Regions from separate parts of the Homo sapiens genome. Here region 2 is linked to region 1. Evidence: fine-mapped expression QTL. A gene starts in region 1. The other region holds a variant in brackets. All regions are shown on one strand. Distances are between the middles of the regions.

The links. PIP is the estimated chance that this variant, and not a neighbour inherited with it, causes the effect.
Region 2: its variant is fine-mapped to the expression of GTF2I in anterior cingulate cortex (GTEx, PIP 0.98).

Annotation. Positions count from the first base shown.
Region 1 is chr7:74,651,972-74,663,192 of GRCh38, forward strand. It overlaps GTF2I (general transcription factor IIi), which reads left to right and starts at 5,747. Exons shown (of 35, transcript NM_032999.4): 1 at 5,747-6,097. RefSeq lists silencers at 5,297-5,456, 5,827-6,006, 6,027-6,316, 6,387-6,906 and enhancers at 5,537-5,656, 5,677-5,726, 7,677-7,906, 8,177-8,316, 9,205-9,847 and 3 more.
Region 2 is chr7:74,167,214-74,178,434 of GRCh38, forward strand. EIF4H (eukaryotic translation initiation factor 4H) reads left to right here and starts at 7,143. Exons shown (of 7, transcript NM_022170.2): 1 at 7,143-7,229. The coding sequence starts at 7,171. RefSeq lists a silencer at 6,894-7,403 and enhancers at 6,906-7,200, 7,182-7,695, 7,696-8,208. The variant A/G (reference allele first, on the strand shown) is at 4,739.

The DNA.
Region 1 (11,221 bases):
TATTCAAACAAAAAACCATTCAAAAACAGTGTTTTATAATCAGTATTAAAAAATATCATTGTGGTTGGATGTGTTGGCTCATGCCTGTAATCCCAGCACTTTGCGAGGCTGAGGCAGGCAGATTACAAGGTCAGGAGTTTGAGACCAGCCTGACCAACATGGTAGAATCCCGTCTCTACCAAAAATACAGAAATTAGCCGGGCGTGGTGGTGCTCGCCTGTAATCCTAGCTACTCAGGAGGCTGAGGCAGGAGAATCGCTTGAACATGGGAGACGGAGGTTGCAGTGAGCCGAGATCACGCCACTGCTCTCCAGCATGGGATACAGAGTGAAACTCTGTCTTAAAAGAAAACAAACAAAAGAAAAAGTGGCTGGGCACGGTGGCTCATGCCTGTAATCCCAACACTTTGGGAGGCCGAGGTGGGCGGATCATGAGGTCAGGAGTTCGAGACCAGCCTGACCAACATAGTGAAACCCTGTCTCTACTAAAAATACAAAAATTAGCTGGGCCTGGTGGCACGCACCTGTAATCCCAGCTACTCAGGAGGCTGAGACAGGAGAATTGCTTGAACCCGGGAGGCGGAGGTTGCAGGAGCCGAGATCGCGCCATTGCACTCCAGCCTGGGCAACTGGAGTGAGAGACCTTGTCTCAAAACAAAAAGCAGAAAACAAAAAAACAGAGTATCTGAACTTTCACCAGAATTATGGTTTTGGGCAATCTGGTCTGGGCGCAGTGGCTGAAAGTGCAATGGCAGCACTTTGGGAGTCCGAGGTGGAAGGATCACCTGGGCTTAGGAGTTTGAGACCAGCCTGGCCAACATGACCAACATGGTGAAACCTCGTCTCTACTAAAAATCCAAAAATTAGCCGGGTGTGGTGGTGTGCACCTATAATCCCGGCTACTCAAGGGCCTGGGGCAGGAGAATCGCTTGAACCTGGGAGGTGGAGGTTGCAGTGAGCTGAGCTTGTGCCACTGCACTCCAACCTGTGTGACAGAGTGAGACTCCATCAAAAATAATAATAATAATAATAAATAAATATAATATAATATATGAGAGACGGTGGGTGCAGGTGCTCTCGCCTGTAATCATAGCACTTTGGAAGGCTGAGGCAGGAGGATTGCTTGAAGCCAGGAGTTTGGAACCAGCCCGGTCAACATAGCAAGACTCCATCTCTACCAAAAAAAAAATGATATAACAGAGTCACCAAAAGAGTATTCAGTTTGGATTCAAAAAAACATCTTTAAAAAGAGCATATGATCCCAACAACAGAGATCTCAACAAAGTGGCATAACCACCGTTCTGTCACCGTGGGCTTTCAGGGGTTCCTATGCAGGGTCCCATGATCACGTGCTATTTCTTTTTTCTTTTCTTTTCTTTTTTGTTTTGAGATGGAGTCTCGCTCTGTCTCCCAGGTTGGAGTGCAGTGGCGCGATATCGGCTCACTACAACCTCCGCCTCCCGGGTTCAAGCAGTTCTCTGCCTCAGCCTCCCGAGTAGCTGGCATTACAGGCGCCTGCCACCACGCCCGGCTAATTTTTTGTATTTTTAGTAGAGACAGGTTTCACCATCTTGAGACGGAGTCTCGCTCTTTTGCCCAGACTGGAGTGCAATGGCGCGATCTCAGCTCACTGCAACCTCTGCCTCCCCGGTTCAAGCGATTCTACTGCCTCAGCCTCCCGAGTAGCTGGGATTACAGGCACATGCCACCATGCTCGGCTAATTTTTTTTGTATTTTTAGTATCGATGGGGTTTCACCATGTTGGCCAGGCTGGTCTCAAACTCCTGACCTCGTGATCCTCCCACTTCGGCCTCCCAAACTGCTGGGATTACAGGCATGAGCCACCGCGCCAATCACATGCTATTTCAAAGCAGTCAACGAAGCTCTAAGCCCAGAGTCTAAGCGAAGATGCATCTGAGTTGGTGGAAGTGCTCACGTGGGGTCCAGATCCATCTCTAGCTTGGCCAAGGCCCATTTGACCTGGCTTTGTTTCCCACCAAACAGAAGAATGGAAAAGTCACATCATATGGACGCTTATCTGAAGACTAAGCTAAACATTAACAAAAAGAGAGGGGGAAATAATTGAAATAACATGGATGGTTCTGCCAGCTGTTGGACTCTGTACTTATGTCCTGACTGACCATGAGCTGAGAGCCGCAAATCTGCTCTTGCTGAAGCCCCAATCCAGTCTGCATCTCTTGGTATATGCATCCTGTGATTCTAGTATTTTTTTTTTTTTTTTTGAGACGGAGTTTCGCTCTTGTTGTCCATGCTGGAGTGCAATGGCATGATCTCGGCTCACAACAACCTTTCCCTCCCAGGTTCAAGCGATTCTCCTGCCTCAGCCTCCTGAGTAGCTGGGATTACAGGCATGCGCCACCACGCCCGGCTAATTTTATATTTTTAGAAGAGATGTGGTTTCTCCATGTTGCTGAGGCTGGTCTCGAACTCCTAACCTCAGGTGATCTGCCTGCCTCGGCCTTCTAAAGTGCTGGGATTACAGGCATGAGCCACTGTGCCCAGCCCGATTCTAGTCTTTAAAGGAGGATTTCCTGGCTGGGTGCAGTGGTTTACGCCTGTAATCTCAGCACCTTGGGGGGCTGAGGCAGGCAGATCACTTGAGGTCAGGAATTTGAGACCAGACAGACCAACATGGTGAAACCCTGTCTCTACTAAAAATCCAAAAATTAGCCGGGCATGGTGGTGCATACCTGTAATCCCAGCTACTCGGGAGGCTGAGGCAGCAGAATCGCTTGAGCCCAGGAGTTGGAGGTTGCAGTGAGCCAAGATCGCACCATGCACTCCAGCCTGGGCACCGGAGTAAGACCCCGTCCCCTCCCAAAAAAATCAATAAATAAAATAAAGGAGGACTTCCTACTACATCATTTTTAGACACAAATCAACTATTATTTTTCTTCTGTTGCCCAATCCCCAAAACAGTAATCTGATCCTACATTTGAAAAAAAACCTGGGCCCAGTGCAGTGCCTCATGCCTGTAATCGCAGCACTTTGGAGGCCACGGCAGGAGGCTTATTTGAGCCCAAGAAGTCAAGACCAGCCTGGGCAACATAGTGAGACCCGTCTCTACAAAAAACGAAATTAGCTGGGTGTGGTGGCACATACATGTTGTCCCAGGCATTTGGGAGGCTAAGGTGGGAGGATGGCTTGAATCTGGAGTTGGAGGCTGCAGTGAGCTGTGATCGAACCACTGCAGTGCAGCCTGGGTGATACAGTAAGACCCTGTCTCAAAAACAGGAAAAAAAAAAAGTAAAACAAAACCCCAGCTTTGCAGAGAGATAGTATCCAAAGTGATTTATAACAATGGCCACAATTAATGTAGTATCTATGCCACTAAGATGAAGGAGAAATTGGTTGACAAGTGTTCCAACAAGCCGCAGTGAGCCAGACCTTAATGAAGACAGAACACGCAAGATCTTTATGACTGTAACACATGAATTTGAGGGTTACAAACCTTAATGGCAAAATGCTCAGAAAAACGCTTTGTCTGCATACACATTGCCTCAACAGAGACAGCTTTCTGACTAGAGGTAATTCAAAACCAGCTCATGTTGACCTAACCGTTTTAGGAATTGCTTCAGTCTCAAAGAAGTTGGAGTTGTTTATGAAGAGGCAGCAAAATTCCACTGTGGGCCCGGTGCGGTGCTCACGCCTGTAATCTCAGCACTTTGGGAGGCTGAGGAAGGCAGATCACTTGAGGTCAGGAGTTCGAGAACAGTCTGGGCAACATGTTTAGTAGAAACCCGTCTCTACTAAAAATACAAAAATTAGCTGGGCGTGGTAGTGCACGCCTATAATCCTAGCTACTCAGGAAGCTGAGGCAGGAGAATCACTTGAACCCGGGAGGTAGACGTTGCCGTGAGCCGAGATCGCGCCACTGCACTCCAGCGTGGGTGACGGAGCGAGGCTCGGTCTCAAAAAAAAAATTCCACTGTGAACCACTAAACAAATTCATAGAAGAAAGGAACTACCTTCCAAACGTTTTCACGATGATAAGAGTCATCTTGGCTAAATAAACTTCTGCCTTGCTAACTCACTTTGTAACATCCCCCCAAATTCTACTCCACGACTCCACTATACCCAGGAAATCCTTTCCCTGACCCCTCCAGGTGGAGAAACCACTCTCTCAACAAAAGATACTCACTGAAGTCCACAGCAGCTGAAATCTGCATCTCGTAGGCTGGCTGCTCTTACTAGAGTGAGTTATAGGCTTCTCAAGAGTTAAATTTGTTCCTAAATATATGCCAGTGGCACGTGGTATTGGGAATAGAGAATTTAATTAAATATTACTAAATGTCAATGAAATACAAGTGCAAAAAGAAAGTTGCTCTTGTGCAAACTTAATGAATGACTTTCGAGACAATCGACAAAGGAGAGTCACAATCTTATTAGGCAAGGACCGAAGGGATCCTAGACATTGTCCGGGAAATCGCAAAAATTCAGGCTTCTGTAATCAGATTGCTTCTCCGGTGAGCTTTACGCTCTCCATGTATTTTTCAAAAAAAATCCAACATGAAAATTCTAGAGGAGGCTTTATTGGGTGCGGTCTGTGCAAGAGAGACGATGGGGAATGCCAATCGGAGAACCCAGATTGAAAGGAAAGGTTTTTGGAACCCACATCAAAAGACTGGCTGCTCGGAAAGTTTTCTCGCTAGCGACAAAGGCTTGGAGGCTGGAAAAAGCGTCGTGGTCGCCACCTACCGAGAAGCGGCGGGTGGGGGGAGGATGGCCGTCGTGGCCCGAATCCCCAGTGGGTGGTACTGGGTGGGGGGGCGGGCGGGAATCAAAAAACCACTCAATCTCGTGCTTTACATAAACATCTAAAAATCGTCGGCCTCGGGGTTGTAAAGTTTTGGAGTTTAACTTAGGTGAACAGTAATGTCTCTCCATTTTCAAAACCCACCGGCTAATTCAAGTTGAGAAGCAAAAAATAGTGGTAGGGGGAGGAGTTTGAGTTAAATCGCATCGCGGTTGACAGAACAAAACAGGAGCTACGAGTCAGGATTTCTGCTCCCACTCCCTTGCAAGTTTCCTTCCAAATCCTGAGGGAGAGATAGAGGCGGAGGGTCTGGGGGAGGAATTAAAACACAAGGTCTCCTCCCCTCTCGCCTGTCCGAACTTGGGGGCAACGGTCTCTTTGGAGGCCAGCTTGGAAAACACTAGAGAGGAGTTCTTTGTGTCCTGGAGGGTGGTGCAAGGCGGAAGGACTCCCCTTTTGCAGAGCAAGGAGGGCGACGGCCCAGCCCGGGGCTCCCCGGCTTTTGCAGCTTCCCTGCCTCGCAATTTGCAAGGAATGTGGGGTGCAAGAGCAAGTGGCGGACTTGGACGGCGGCTGGCGCTCGGTGGGGACGACGCCGGAGCCACCACCCGTCCAGATTTCCGTTTCTGCACCCCGGCTCCCCTCCCCCACCCGGGCGGCCGCGCAGGCCCCAGGTGCAGCCATGTTCTCGCTCCCACCACCCTCGCCTCCATTGACAGCCCTTGCTGGAGAGGGCCGGGCGCCGCGCTTGCCTCGTCCTCGGGTTCGGGGCTAGCCGGCGCGGTGCTTCCTGGGAGTTGTAGTCCACGACCGCCGCCGCCGCGTTGACGGGGAACGCATCCGAAACTACAACTCCCGCTGGGCGGCGCTGCGGATGCGCAGGCGCAACGCGCCTTCGAGGAACAAAAAAAAAAAAAAAAAAAAAAAAAAAGAAAAAAAAGAAAAAAAAAAGGAGGAGGAGGAGGAGGGTGAGAGAGAAGCTGGGAGAGCAGAGAAAAGGGGCCACCGGTCGCCCCCCCGCTTCCCCGCACGCGCTCTCCAGCCGCGGCCGCCCGCCTGCCGCGGTCACCCCGGCCTCTGCCTCTGTCCCCCAGTGATCGGATCAAGGCGCTGAGCGAGGCCCTGCCTGCGGGGCGGCCATGCGGCGGTGACAGGAGCGCGACCGACACGCACGGGCCCCTCGCCCCCTCTCGCCTCCCGTCCGCTCGCCAGCTCCCCTCAGCCGAGGCTGCTCCGCGGCGGCCGCAGCCCGCGCGCGGCCCACACTCGCCTCCCCTCGGCACCCCCGGCCCCGGAGCTGCCTGGAGGCGGCCGCACTCGGGTGAGTCCCTCTCGCCTCATCCCCGCGCCCCCCGCCCCCGCCTCGGGGGCCATTGCGAGCGGGGGCCTTTATTAGAGACTTTGCCCCGCCGGGGCCTGCAGGGACAGGGGCCTGGGAGCCGCGGCCCGCCGCGCGCGGTGTGGGGCCTTGGGGGGCGCCCGTGCCGCCTCCCCCTACCCCCACCCCCACCGCCTCGCCGGGTCTCGAGCCCCGCCGGCCTTGGCAGTGGCCGAAACGAGGCGATGGGGGTGGGGCGGCACGGACGCGGTCGCGGGGGACGACAGTGGCACGCGCGCGCCTCAGTGCGCGTGGGGGAGGGGCGCGCGCGCCGACCGGCGTGCGGTGGGGGGGCGCCTCGCGCGTGCGATCCCGCGCGCGAGCGAGCGAGCGGCCCTGCGGGCTGCGCATGCCCCGCCGCGCTGATTGGCCGGCTAGGCGGTGCGGGGGCGCGCGCGGTGCCAGGCCCGAGCCGTCGTGGGGTCGCGCTCGCCTGGTGTATCTGGGGCTCCTGCGCCGGGGCAGCAGACGCGCGGGATTGGCCAACCGGCGCGGGGGCGGGGCCGCGCGTTGCCTGGTAACTGCGGCGGGCGGGGGAGCGGGAGCGCTGTCCCCCGCCCCGCCCCGCTCCCAGGTGGAGTCCGCAGTGGGCTTTGTCCCGGGCCGGCCCGGCGCGCCTGCCCCGCGGGGCCTGTTCTTTGGGGGAAATAAACACAATGACCGGAAGGAAAACTTCAGCTTTAGGCCATGAAAATTAAGCCGTCTGGGTTCAGCCAGCACCCAGACGACGGGAGTGCAGAGGAAGAAGGAAAATGAAATGGAAAAAGCTGTCTCCTTCCCGCTCCCCGACTTCTCCACTTTTTCTTAATCCAGCTTTTGCTTTTTCGTGTAGCGAATTTTGTCCTCCCTAGGTTATGGATTTGCGCTGATTTGCGGCTGGGGATGTTCACAGGTGGGGTGCTGTTGGAGTAGTGTCCACTCTTGGCGATGCGCAGCTCTTGCTGACTACTGACCTCCTTTTTTTAAAAAAAATTATTTGTGGAGATGCGTTCTCACTTTGTTGCCCAGGCTGGTCTTGAACTCCTAGGCTCAAGCGATCCTCCCACCTTGGCCCCCCATAGTGCTGGGATTACAGGTGTGAGCCATCGCTTTCGGCTTAATTTTCTTTTTTTTTTTTAGAAACAGGGTCTCTCTGTGTTGCCCTGGCTGAAGCGCAGAGTGGCACAATCATAGCACATTGCAGCCTCCAACACCTGGGCTCCAGCGATCCTCCTGCCTCAGCCTCCTCAGTGGCTGGGACTACAGGCGCATGCCATCATGCCCTGCTAATTTTTTTTTTTTTGAGATGGAGTCTCACTCTGTGGCCCAGGCTGAAGTGCACTGGTGTGATCTCGGCTCACTGCAACCTCTGCCTCCCGGGTTCAAGCCGTTCTCCTGCCTCAGCCTCCTGAGTAGCTGGGATTACAGGCGTGCCCACCACGCCCGGCTAATTTTTGTATTTTTAGTAGAGATGGCGTTTCACCATGTTGGCCAGGCTGGTCTCCAACTCTTGAATCAAGCTGAAAGCAATCGGCCCGCCTCGGCCTGCCACCAAAGTGCTGGGATTACAGGCGTGAGCCACCGCCCTGGGTCACGCCTGGCTAATTTAAAATTTTTTTTTAGAGATGGGGTCTTCTTGTGTTGCCTAGGCTGGTCGGGAACTCCTGGACTCTGGTGATCCTCCCGTTTAGGCCTCCCAAAGTGGTGGGAGTACAGGCTTGAGCCACCACGCTGGGCCTCATCTCTTTTAAATTCAACTTTGCCGCAGACAATGGCTTGATCAGCCAACAGTGCAGAGGAGAAGTCTCCAGTCCTTCAGGGAACAAAAGGGGAAGTTAGTTTGCAAATGAGAACGTGCAGGTAGAGTGCCCTGCGGAGGCGGGGTCTTCTCCCCAGGCTGAGGCCTGTGGTGTGGGATGACCGATTTTATTTCCTGCTACAGGATTTTTCTGTGGCTGCTACCTTGGCTTTCGTTTCTCCTCCTCCTTGAGATCTTGGTCTTTTGGCTGGAATGACATTTTTCAGCCTATGGAAATCTTTCTTGCTCATATGCAGCCACTTCCTTAAGGTCTTCTCTTTTTTTTTTTTTTTTGCTGCTGTTGTTGAGAGGGTTTCGTTCTATCCCCCCAGGCTGGAGTGCAGTGGCGCGATCTTCGCTCACTGCAACCTCCACCTCCCGGGTTCAAGCGATTTTCCTGCCTCAGTCTCCCCCGAGTAGCTGGGATTACAGGCGCCTGCCCCCAAGCCCCGCTAATATTTGTATTTTTAATAGAGACGGTGTTTCGCCATGTTTGTCAGGCTGGTCTTGAACTCCTGACTTCAGGTGATCCGCCTGCCTCGGTCTCCGAAAGTGCTGGGATTACAGGCGTGAGCCACCGCTCCCGGCCTGTGGTCTTCTCTTATATTGCATAGTCAGAGTTTGTTCCTTCTTAGTCTCCCAATCAACTTGTGTGCCCTTCCTCGCAGGGCACCTTTATTTTCTCTCTTTTTTTTCCTTTTCCTTTTTCTTTTCTTTTCTTTTTTTTTTTTTTTCGGAAGCGGAGTTTCGCTCTCGTTGCCCAGGCTGGAGTGCAGTGGCGCGATCTCGGCTCACTGCAACCTCCGCCTCCCGGGTTCAAGCGATTCTCCTGCTTCAGACTCCTGAGTAGCTGGGATTACAGGAGCGCTCCACCACGCCCGGCTAAGGGCACTTTTACTTTCCTCTGCATCTGGCCTAGTCACTGGGTGTTGAGCTCGTAGGGGCAGGGACAAGAAGCCTTTTCCTCCTATGTCTTTCTCCCTCCACTTCCCCCTCCAGTTTGGCATCGTCCTCGTGCCTTGCCGGTGGTAGCAATGCTGCTTACATTTGAGTGTCTTCCGTGCCCCCTCCATGGCTCTTGAGCGCTTTGGATGTACAGTATTTTTCTTATTTAATCTTTGTGACAAGTCTGTAATTCTATTCTATAGAGCGGAACAAGTCTAGAGAAGTTGGAGAGTTCTGTACTCTTGCTTGCCTAGCACATGAACCTGGCCAGTGTGACTCAACCCCTAAGCCGAGGTTGTGAAACCACCGCGCCTGGGCGTCCCCGGGAGAGCTGGCATGTGCGGACTCTGCTTGCTGGGCCCTACCTCCCAGGCTGATTCTGCAGGTCTGGGGAGTTGCCCCACAATTTGCATTTCGATTAGCTCCCCAGGTGGTGTTGATGGTGGCTGCTTCCCGGACAGCCCTTTGAGAACCATTCACAATGGTGCAAAATGAAGGGAGAGAAATTTATTGGAGATATTTGCTTTTTCTTACTTTAAAATTAGATCTTGGCCGGGTGCGGTGGCTCACACCTGTAATCCCAGCACTTTGGGAGGCCGAGGGAGGTGGAACACCTGAAGTCAGGAGTTGGAGACCAGCCTGCCGACATGGCGAAACCCCGTCTGTACTAAAAATACAAAAATTAGCCGGGTGTGGTGGCGTGCGTACGTAGTTTCAGCTACTTGGGGAGGCTGAGGCAGGGGGATCTCTTGAACCCAGGAGGTGGAGGTTGCAGTGAGATGAGATCTCACCACTGCACTCCAGCCTGGGCGACAGAGCGAGACTGTGTCTCAAAAAAAATAAAAATAAAATAGATGTTAAAGAATGAAAAATAATTCGGACGACTGACGGTAGATTGCTCAGAAAACTGGCTGAGAGTTGAGAATTCCTGTTAGCCATGATTAGAAAAGTTAAAAGTTTCATAAGTCTCCAGTTTAAAAAGGGGCCATGGATTTAAGTGTGGAATAAAATGGGAAATCTTTGGAAGTTTGGCTTTTTTCCCACTCTGATTTATTTATTAATTTAGTCGCAGCACGGGCATTTGTTACATTATCCTCTTCAGATGCCCAAAGTCTGCCACACCACCACACAGAAGGTTTGAGTGATAGGACCACAGCTTGTAGTTTTGGCCCTTGGAGGTAGGGGGGTTGGGGAGCATTGTGTGCTGAGTCTCCTCTGCCACATGCCCCTCCAGCGATTCAGCTTACTCAAATATGACTACAGAGACTGACATTAAAATGTAGGCTTTGGGGGTTCTTTTTGCGGGACGGGGTTGGGGGCAATTCTTGCTGAGAAAGATTTTTAGGTTTTTTCTTTCTTTTTTTTTTTTTTTTTTTTTTTTTTTGATGGAGTTTCACTCTGTCGCCCAGGCTGGAGTGCAATGGCACAATCAGCTCACTGCAACTTACGCCCCCCCAGGGTCAAGTGATTCTCCTGCCTCAGCCTCCGGAGTAGCTGGGATCATAGGCATGCGCCACCATGCCTGGCTAACTTTGTATTTTTAGTAGAGACGGGGTTTCTGCATGTTGGTCAGGCTGGTCTCGAACTCCTGACCTCAGGTGATCCGCCTGCCTTGGCCTCCTTAAGTGCTGGGATTACAGGCGTGAGCCACTGCACCTGGACCCTTTTTTTTTTTTTTTTTTTTTTTTTTTTTGAGACACAGTCTTGCTCTATCGCCCAGGCGGGAGTGTAGGTGCGTGGTCTCGGCTCACTGCTACCTCTGCCTCCTGGGTTGAAGTGATTCTCCTGACTGAGCCTCCTGAGTAGCTGGGATTACAAGCACGCACCACCACGCCTGGCTAATTTTTTGTATTTTTAGTAGACACGGGGTTTCATCATGCTGGCCAGGCTTGTCTCCAACTCCTGACCTTGTGATCTGCCCGCCTAGGCCTCCCAAAGTGTTGGGCTTACAGGCGCCCTGTGATTTTTAGGTTTTTAAAATTATAATGGATTTCTTTCCGGGGAAAATAACCGCAGATAGGTGGGAGGAATGGTTTTAGTTTACAGTTGATGACCCCCCTCCTTTCCCCACCTACACCCTTAGGCGAGTTGTACACACTCCTCAGGGGATCCCAACTTCCATGGCCACTGTCCTATGTTCTGGCATTTTCGATGACCCATAGGTGGACAGGTTGTTATCATCTAAAGGAGCTGAACACTGAACAATTACTAAACACTTAACCTTTTCTGTTATTACTGGTTACCAGCTATTTGCATTGCATTTCACCTAATTCATTTCTACTGTTGTTTCATTCTTTGTTGATGACATGAATGTTTTATATAAACATGAGTTTTTGCAATATGCT
Region 2 (11,221 bases), 480 kb before region 1:
ATGATGTTATTCTATTGTCTTCTGTTACTGCTTCTGTCATCGTCAGTCTTACAGTCAGGTAAACAGCATTTGTGTTCACTCTGGTAGCTCTAAACATTTTTCTTTTTGTCTTTGTTCTGCACTTTTTTTTTTTTTTTTTTTTTGAGACAGGGTCTCACTCCATCACACAGGCTGGAGTGCAATGGCACAATCCCAGCTCACTGCAACCTTCACCTCCCAGGTTCAAGCGATTCTTGTACCTCAGCCTATCGAGAAGCTGGGACTATAGGTGTGTGCCACCACGCCTGGCTAATTTTTGTATTTACAGTACAGGCGGGGTTGTTCTGTATTTTCATCATGATGGTTCTAAATATAGACAGGCTGGGCACAGTGGCTCATGCCTGTAATCCCAGCATGTTGTGAGGCTGAGGCAGGAAGATCACTTGAGGTCAGGAGTTTGAGACCAGCCTAGGCAACAGAGTGAAACTTCACCTCTACGAAAAATCAAAAAATTAGCCTGGCATGTTGCGTGCTTGTGGTCCCGGCTACTTGGGAGGCTGAGGTGGGAGGATTGCTTGAGCCTGGTAAATCAAGGCTGCAGTGAGCCATGATCACGCCCACTGCACTCAGCCTAAGTGACAGAGCAAGACCCTTTCTTTAAAAAAAATAATAATAATTTAGCAAAAATTTAAATTAATTATGAATAAGTAAAAATGACATGTATTTCTTTTAGAAGGGGTGATCTTAAAAAAATTAAGCACATGAGGCCAGGTGTGGTGGCTCATACCTGTAATTCCAGAGCTTTGGAAAGCTGAGGAAGGAGAATTGCTTAAGGCCAGGAGTTCGACACCAGCCCAGGCAACATAGCAGGATCCTGCCTCCACGAAATGAAAACATTAGCTGGGTGTGGTGGACACGTGTAATCCCAGTGACTCGGGAGGCTGAGGCAGGAGAATTGCTTGAACCTGGGAGGTGGAGGTTGCAGTGAGCTGAGATCGCACCACTGCACTCCAGCCTGGGCAACAGTGTGAGACCCTGTCTCAAAAAAGAAAAAAGAAAATAGAAAATCTCCGAATCCCTGTATGACCTGGAAGCCTCCCCCAAAAACCTTCCTTCAAGTTGTCCCACCTTTCCAGACAGAACCAATGTATACATTACATGTATTGATTGATGTTTCCCTATAACTTATGTCCCTGTAAAATGTATAAAATCAAGCTGTAACCAACTCACTTTGGGTACATGTTCTCAGAACCTCCTGGGATTGTGTTATGGGCCTTGGTCACTCATATTTGGCTCAGAATAAACCTCTTTATTTTTATCTATTTATTTGAGACAGGGTCTCACTCTGTCACCCAGGCTGGAGTGCAGTGGCGCCATCTCACTGCAACCTCCATCTCCAGAGTTCCAGCTATCCTTCCACCTCAGCCTCCAAGTAGCTGGGACTACAGGTATGTGCCATCACGCCTGGCTAATTTTTTTTTGTAGAGATGAGGTCTCACTATGTTGCCCAGGCTAGTCTCAAACTCTTGGATTCAAGTGATCCTCCCACCTTGGCCTCCCAAAGCACTGGGATTACAGCAGTGAGCCAACATGCCCAATTTCAGATATAGATATATAGATATATATATATATATATATATATATATATATTTTTTTTTTTTTTTTTTTTTTTTGAGATGGAATCTTGTTCTGTTGCCCAGGCTGGAGTGCAGTGGCACGATCTTGGCTCACTCAACCTCTGCCTCCTGGGTTCAAGTGATTCTCTTGCCTCAGCCTCCCAAGTAGCTGGGATTACAGGCACGTGTCACCACACCCGGCTAATTTTCGTATTTTTAGTAGAGACGAGGTTTCACCATGTTGGCCAGGCTGGTCTCGAACTCCTGACCTTGTGATCTGCCCGCCTCCACCTCCCAAAGTGCTAGGATTACAGGCATGAGCCACCACCGTGCCAGGCTAATTTCAGATTTTTTTAGATAATAGCCATATTATACCAATAAAACATCATTTCAGCACATTAAAACAGCATGAATAGTGATAACTGGTATTACTATTATTATTCCTGTTTTATAGACAAAGAACAGAGGGATTAAGCACCTTGCTGGAGGTCACACAGTAGCAGTAAGTGGCTTGGCTGGGATTTGAAGACAGGCAGTTTGAAATGCAAGCCCACAGGCTTCACCGCTGCAATAAAGGCCTCTGGGAGAAAGTGTTATCTGAGTTGGGCCTTTGAGAGCCACCCCAGGGCTCAAGGGAACTGGTGAAGCCTGGAATATCCACTCTGGGGAAGGGCTTAGGGAACAAATTATTATTATTTCTTTATTTATTTTTGAGATGGAGTCTCGCTCTGTTGCCCAGGCTGGAGTGCAATGGTGTGATTTTGGCCCACTGCAACCCCCACCTCCCGGGTTCAAGCGATTCTCCTGCCTCAGCCTCCCGAGTAGCTGGGATTACAGGCGCCTGCTACCACATCCGGCTAATTTTTGTATTTTTAGTGGAGACGAGGTTTCACCATGTTGGCCATACTGGTCTTGAACTCCTGACCTCATGTGATCTGCCTGCATCAGCCTCCCAAAGTGCTGGGATTACAGGTGTGAGCCACGGTGCCCGGCCAGGGAACAAATTATTAATAGGACCAAAGTTCATGAGGATAACCTCAGGAAAGGCTGACATTTAACTTTGCCATGGAAGCAGTCACAATGTATACAGAACTTTCTGGGGTTGGCCTCAATCCTCTGCATCCCAGGTGGAGGTGGGCTATGTGCTGGAGACCAAAAGAAGGGGGAAGTCCCTATAGATTGGAGGGTCTAGGAGTGTGGCCCGAAAGACTGGCCCCAGCTGCTGGCTGGGGAGAAAGGGGTATTAAGCCGGGAAGGAGGGGATGACCTGTGGTTGGTCCCAGTGCTGAGAAAGCCCCAGCCTTCCTAGAAAGTCTATTTTTTAATTTTTTAGACGGATTCTTGCTCTGTCACCCAGGCTGGAGTGCAGTGGTGTGACCTCGGCTCACTGCCACCTCTGTCTCCCGGAATCAAACGATTCTCCTGCCTCAGCCTTCTGAGTAGCTGGGACTACAGCTGTACGCCACCAAGCCCAGCTAAGTTTTGTATTTTTACCAGAGATGGGGTTTTGCCATGTTGCCCAGACTGGTCTTGAACTCCTGGCCTCAAGTGATCCACCAGCCTCAGCCTCCCAAAGTGCTGGGATTACGGGCATGAGCCACCACACACAGCCCTCCCTTAAAAAAAAAAAAAAAAAAAATTTATTATGTTTTTTGATAGGATCTCAATCTGTGGCCCAAGCTGGAGTGCAGTGGTGTGATCATGGCTCACTACAGCCTCAACACCCTGGCTCAAGTGATCCTACCATCTCAGGCTCCCAAGTAGCTGGGTCCACAGGCATGTGCAACCACACCTGGCTAATTTTTATTTTTTGTAGATTTGGGGTTTTACTATGTTGCCCCGGCTGGTCTCCATTTGCTGGGGTCAAGCGACACTCCCGCCTCGGCTTCCCAAAATGTTGGAATTACAGGTGTGAGCCACCATGCCCCGCTTTTTACTTTATTAATGACAAATTGCACCCCTTCTCCCACATGTAAGGCCCTGTGGGACATAACCCCCTTAACATGGCTCCTGTCCTTCAAGATCTCACCCTGAAGTGACTTTGGACTGGGACACTTTGGAAGTAAAAAAAATGTAAGGCCATTCAGGAATAAATATTAACGTTTCCTTTTTTTTTTTTTTTTTTTGAGACGGAGTTTTGCTCTTGTTGCTCAGGCTGGAGTGCAATGGTGCAATCTTGGCTCACCGCAACCTCCACCTCACAGGTTCAAGTGATTCTCCTGCCTCAGCCTCCCAGGTAGCTGGGATTACAGGCATGCGCCACCACGCCTGGCTAATTTGTCTGCCCACCTCAGCCTCTCAAAGTGCTGGGATTACAGGCGTGAGCCACTGCCTCCAGCCCTTAATGTTTCCCTTTGGTCAAATGCAATTTGATGCATTTTAAGAGTAATGGAGTAGCCGGGTGTGGTGGCTCAGGCCTATCATCCCAGCACTTTGGGAGGCCAAGGCGGGTGGATCACCTGAGGTCGGGAATTCGAGACCAGCCTGACCAACATGGTGAAACCCCATCTCTCCTAAAAATACAAAATCAGCCGTGCATGGTGGCCGGTGCCTGTGGTCCCAGCTACATAGGAGGCTGAGGTAGGATCATTGCTTGAATCTGGGAGGCGGACGTTGCAATGGGCCGAGATGGTGCCACTGCACTCCAGCCTGGGTGACAGAGTGAGACTCCATCTCAAAAAAAAAAAAAGTAAAAAAAGAGTAATGGAGTGGCCAGGCACGGTGGCTCACGCCTGTAATCCCAGCACTTTGGGAGGCTGAGGTGGGTGGATCACCTGAGGCCAGGAGTTCAAGACCAGACTGGGAAACACATGGAAACCCCATCTCCACCAAAAATACAAAAATTAGCCAGGCGTGGTGGCGCACACCTGTAATGCCACTTACTCAGGTGGCTGAGGCAGGAGACTGGCTTGAATGCTGGAGGCGGAGGCTGCAGTGAGCTGAGATCGTGCCACTACAGTCCAGCCTGGGCAACAGAGTGAGACCCTGTCTCAAAAAAAAAAAAAAAATGAGTAATGGAGTGGCCGGGTGCGTGGTTCCCACCTGTAATCCTGCAATACCACTACTTCGGGAGGCCAAGGAGGGAGAATAACTTGAAGTCAGGAGTTCAAGACCTGCCTGGGGGGCCGGGCACGGTGGCTCAC[A/G]CCTGTAATCCCAGCACTTTGGGAGGCCAAGGCGGGCGGATCACAAGGTTAGATCAAGACCATCCTGGCTAACACGGTGAAACCCCGTCTCTACTAAAAATACAAAAAATTAGTCGGGCGTAGTGGCGGGCGCCTGTAGTCCCAGCTACTCAGGAGGCTGAGGCAGGAGAATGGCATGAACCTGGGAGGCGGAGCTTGCAGTGAGCCGAGATTGCGCCACTGCACTCCAGCCTGGGTGACACAGCCAGACTCTGTCTCAAAAAAAAAAAAAAGACCCGCCTTGGCAACATGGCAAGACCCATCTCTACCAAAAACAAAAAAAAAAAGAAAGTAAATAAGAGTAATAGAGTAATGGGGGCAGGAGCATGGAGCAGGGGTCCAAGTTTAAACTGCGCAAGGAGAAGAAACCATTGGTTATTTTCTGAGCCATGTGCTAAGGTCAAAACTAGGTGACCTTGGGCAAGTCTCTTTCTCTCTGGGTGGTTCCACAGCTGTTAAACAGGTTTGGAAATTATTATCTACAGGTAAAGCACCCATAATGGTGCCAGACACCTTGGTAGGTCCCCAATATATATTGTGTGCCAGGAATTTTACATATTTACTAATTTGAATCTTTACAACACTGAAGAGGTAGGTGACATTATTATATAGATGAGAAAACAGGCATGTTAAAGCGGTTAAGCAACGTCCTCGAGGTCACTCAGCCAGTAAGACGTTAACTGAGCCTAGGTTCAATCTAGGTCTATCAGGCAGCAAAGTGTTTTATTACTTGGGAAGAAAAAGGCACAGAAAAATGAATAAGTGAGTTCAACACTATTAACTCATGAATTGATAATGCTCTGTCCATCTTAACACTGCTATGAAGGAGAAGATACTCAAATATAAAAGTTGGCAGGGCACAGTGGCTCATGCTTGTAATTCCAGCACTTTAGGAGGCAGAGGCAGGAGGACTACTTAAAAGCCAGTAGATCGAGACAAACCTGGGCAACATAGTGAGACTCTGTCTCTACAAATAAATGTTTTACAAAGCAAATTAGAGCCAGGCACGGTGGCTCATGCCTGTAATCCCAGCACTTTGGGAGGCCAAGGCGGGTGGATCTCAGTTCAAGACCAGCCTGGGCAACATGGTGAAACGCTGTCTCTACTAAAAATACAAAAATTAACTGGGTGTGGTGGTGCACGTCTGTCACCCCAGTTACTCGGGAGACAGAGGCAGGAGAATTGCTTGAACCGAGGAGGTGGAGGTTGCAGTGAGATGAGATTGCGCCACTGCACTCCAACCTGATTCTCCATCTCAAAAAAAAAAAAAAAAAAATGCAAATTAGGCGAGGTACTGCCCGCCTATAGTCCTAGCTACTCCAGAGGCTAAGGCGGCAGGATGGCATGAGCCCAAGAGGTCAAGGCTGCCGTGAGCTACCACTGTTCCACCGCAGTCCAGCCTGGGCGACAGAGCGAGACCCTGTCTCAACAACGAACCAATAAATACATAATAAAAAGTAATGGTTAAGCGGAAGATACCTAGGTACACATCACAACAAAATTCTATGAGGTTCTTTCAAAGTGTGCTTAGATAATTAAGGTTTGTCAACATCGTGGCATCCACAATTACTACCATCTCAATCACAAACCTGGAAATTTACCCGTGTAATTAATTCCCACTGCATAACCATGTTTTGTTATTGCTAGATGATGGAATCCACAACAGTATCCAATTCTTTTTCCAAGGCAACGACTTCTGCAAAAAACCGAGATGTGCAGTCTCTCTTGCTAAGTCACCGATCACCTATACTCTCTCCTCTCAAAACCCCCCAATACCCAGGCAGCGAGTAAGCCCTGGAAGGCAGGATTCGTGTCTGCATCCCACCGCCTCGCACCCCCTTCCGGGGCATCCTCATCGTGTGGCCAGCTCCTGCCTGGAGAAGGAGGTGGCCTTTACTTGGGTGTCACCCGGGGACCACTTGGGGGTCCAAGCGGGACAGGCCTCCGAGGTCCCCGCCATGTATGGAGGCCGAAAGGCAGCGTCCCAGGCGAACTGGAGAGGGAGTTCCCCCCAGCTCTCCAGGTCACCTCCCGCCGACGGACGGAAAGGCCGGCGCGCACGGGCGTGGTGCGGCGGGGATAGGAGGCAGCCACGGGCGCACCCCAGGGCCAGCACATAATGGGCCGCGTAGGCCGGGCAGGCGTCCAGCTGGGACGCCGCCGCACCACGTGGGCTGCAGAGCGCACGGGGCAGGCAGCTGCCGGTGGGCCCAGGGCCGGGCGCTGCGCGGCCAGCGTCCGTGCGTGCGTGCGCGCGCGCGCGTGCGCGTGCCTGCGTCCAAGGGATTTGCGATCAGGCGGCGCGGCGGACAGCCCCGGCGGCGGGGCGGGGGGAGTTATATTGCGGGGTCCTTCCTCGCTCACCCTGGTTCCTCTCGGAGCGGAGACGGCAAATGGCGGACTTCGACACCTACGACGATCGGGCCTACAGCAGCTTCGGCGGCGGCAGAGGGTGAGGCGGGCGTGCGCGGGCCCCGTCGGGGGCTGCGGGACCGGCGGAGTCGGGGCCGTCAGGGTGGCGGCCGTCCTGCGCTCAGCCGGGGCGGCGGGAGGCGGGGGCCCGCGGAGGCCTAGGAGCGGCGCCTGGAGGGCCGGGGCCTGGAAATGGCGCGCTCGGAGACGGGGCGGCGGCGGCTGGGCTCCCGGGGTCTTGCTTGCGGGGCGGATCCCTTCCACTGCCTCCCGCCAACGACAACGTGTTGGTTTTTGCCCTGCCTTGGCCGCGGCGGCGCCGATGCCCGGAGACGAGCGCCCGCTTCCAGCCCCATCCCCCCTACGGTAGGACCAGTGCGGGGCTGAGCTGTGGCGCTGGGGTACGGGCCACACGGCCTGCCCCGCTCCGGTCCCGGCCTCTTTCGCGGCCCTCTGTTGCCTGCCCGCCTTGCAGGCCCCTGGCCCCTTCGCCACGAGGCCGGCCGACTGGGGAAGGTCGGCAGCCAAGAGGGGCGATTCCCTTCCCCTTACGTGTGAGGCAGGGATTTGGCGGCTCTGGCCCGGGGATGGTACGACTCCTTGCGGGCGGGGGGAGACCAAGGAGATAAATCCATCGTAGCTTCTTTGTATTAATCTTTCTTGGGTCACAGTGCCTTGACAGGTGCTACGTGCTCTTTGGCACAATTTCATTTCTCCTTGGTTTCTCGCTCTGATCTGGAGAAGGAACCGCATTTAGCGTCGTCCTGATTGTTGTCAAATGCAGACAACTATGTATAATTGAAACACTTTGCTTAAAAGAAACATCTTTGAATAGAGAGCTCATGGTGTTTAATTCCAGGACTCTGCACTTTTTTTTATTTTATTTTTTAAATACAAGTTGCCTCGTTAGAATATAGGCTATGAACATCTTGCTGTTTGTCAAGGACACACTTGGGCTTTGTGTTTTCTTGCAGAAAGGATTACTTTCCCAGGATAACACCACAATAATACACACTGAGGTGTTCAGTCTCCTGGGTTGCAGTCCAAAAGTATCTTTGTTTGGTAAAGAATGATCACTTTTAATACCTTGGTTTGGGAACGGCTCAGACAAAAGCTTGTTTCGGGGCAGGAGTGTAGCTAATGTTCATGATACTGTAACGTGGAAGTGTGCCGGTGTAGGTGGAGCTATTGTCATTCCAAAGAACATTTTATTTGCTAATAAAAAAAGAAGTAAATGTTGGATGACATGAAATTATCGCCTTTGGGTTAGGTTTCTAAACATCAAATTTGTTCTCAAGTCATTTCGAAATTTAATAACTAGGGTTTTTTTTTTTTTCCTAGTTCCAAAAAACGTTCACAGAAGTACCCAGAAAAATTCTTCTTAAACAGCGTGGTCAATTTAAGTTTTAGTTGCATTGGGACTACAATAAGGTGACCTTATTAAACTGAGTGTGGGGATTTAAAAAAATTTCCTTCAGACACATTTGCCAGCTCTTCTGGTGTCAAATTTTGACATTTGGGGGTGCCAGGAACAATCAGAAGTAAAATTCTATTAAGATGCTATTAATTTCAAATCTCCACAGCAGATGAAAATATTAGCCATTTGCCCCAGGTGTACTCCAAAAACTGATAGGAGAGTTTCCTAGGTAGCACTGTGCATCACTTGAACTTCCTAATAGAAAGTCTCTTTACTGTTAAGCATCTTCTATGTCTCACTTACTTGGAATTTTCTATTTGGCTTCATATTAATGTGAAACTACATAAAGTATTGCTACTTTCAGAAGTAGTTTTAAAAACTTGTTGGTGAATTTACATATTCATTTATACATGTGTATTCTTTTTTTTTTTTTTTGAGATGGAGTTTCACTCTTGTTGCCCAAGCTGGAGTGCAATGGTGTGATCTCGGCTCACTGCAACCTCCACCTCCCGGGTTTAAGCGATTCTCCTGCCTCAGCCTCCCAAAGTGCTGGGATTACAGGCATTAGCCACCGCGCCCGGCCTCAATTATTTTAATTATGTCCACATGAACAAATGTCACTGCTTTACAATGCTTAAGCATCATAGAAGATTGCCACCTATGGAAAGCAGTTTTAACACTGCATTGTTTGGTACTTGTGTAGGCACCTTCTCCCTTGTCTAAAATGCCTCAGACAGGCTCGTACATCTCACCTCTGAATTACTTGGGTCACAGGTGAAAGAAATGGTAGGCCTAAAATGAACAGTTATCATCATAAAACATAGTTTGGTAGTTATACATCTTCCTAAGTTTATTTCGTAGTTGTGTTTAATAACCAGTGCAGTTGTCAGGAAACAGTATTGAACCACTGCTTTTTTCCCCCGAGCCTGTAAGGGCATGTCCCCAGCAGCCAGGGAGAGAACCAGGGACTGCATTGTTCAGCAAGCAAATCAAAACAAAATTCCAAATGATCAAGAGTTGATTGTACCAGATCTTGAATGGACTTTGTTTTGCAGTTTGCTAAATTATCTTTTTGAGGTTCCAGTTTCTCATCTACCATTGGCAGTAAAGTGCAGAGTAATACTGATTTTATATTTCTAATTGCAACAAAGCTATGAGTGCTTAGTGGAAAACCACCGATCCTGAGAATTAGGGTGGAAATTGGAGGTGGCAAGAATTGAGGTGGCTGAAATGGTGCCATCTAAAAACTGGCAAAACTCCAAATTTATTCTTTATCAGGATTCAGTTAGGGAGTTTAGAATTCTTTTTTAAATAGAGATGGGTTTCACTATGTTGCCCAGGCTGGTCTTGAACTCTTGGACTCAAGTGATCCTCCCGCCTCAGCCTCCCAAAGTGTTGGGATTACAGGCATGAGCTACCACGCCCAGCCTAGGAGTTTAGAATTCTAACCTTTGAATCTTTAAACTTAGCATGTCTGTCTAAATTTCTGAGCATATTTTTATCCAAAATTTTTATGGTGGTAAAATATACATAACATAAAATGTGCCACTTTACCCATTTTTCAGTATACATTTCAGGGATATTGAGTGTATTCGTAATGTATAACCATCACCACTATCCAGCTCCTTAACTCTTACAGCTTGTAAAACTAAAACCCTGTCCCCTTTGAATAGTAATTCCCTATTGCCCTCCTTCCCCCAGGTCCCTGGCAACCACCATTCTACTTCCTGTCTCTGAGCATATTTTAAGATTTGTATGTAATAGGAAGGAAAGCAGTGTATAAAAACTACAGCTAGTTTTCACTGATGCTAGGGCCTGTAAAGCTATTGAAAAGCTTATTTTAAAATGCTGTTTACATGTCAAATGTCAAGTCGTTTAGGTTTGTTATCCTTCTTCACTCCAAGTGTTCCATTGCTTAGTTCCAAACCATTATCCTCTATGAAAAGTGTTACCAGAAATATTTGGATTTGCTAAGAGGTCTCTGCATGACGGTTCATGTAAAAGCCCTGGCTTTGGAATAAGGCAGACCAGAGTTTCATCAGTTCAGCCATGTGTTAGTTGTGTGATCTGAAGTAAGTTTCTTCACCTCTCTGAGCCTCGTTTTCCCCACATATGAGTTAGAAACATGTATTTATTTATGAAATAGGCTCTCCTTCTGTCACCCAGGCTGGAGTGCAGTGGCAGGATCATAGCTCAGTGCAGCCTCGACTTCCCAGGCTCAAGCCATCCTCCCACCTCAGCCTCCCAAGTAGCTGGGATTACAGGGTGCGCCACCATGCCCAGCTAATTTTTGTATTTTTTTGTAGAGACAGAGTGTCTCTATGTTGCCCAGGCTAGTCTCAAACCCCTGGGCTCAAGGGATCTTCCTGCCTCAGCCTCCCAAGGCTCATTGTGTGAGCCACAGTACCCAGCCTTCAATTTATGTTTCTATTAGAAATTAAGCTTTGTGGCTGGGTGCAGTGGTTCATGCCTGTTATCCCAGCACTTTGGAAGGCCGAAGCAGGCGGATCACTTGTGGCCAGAAGTTTGAGACCACCCTGACCAACGTGGCAAAACCCCATGTCTACTAAAAATACAAAACGGGTGTGGCGGCACATACCTGTAATCCTAGCTAC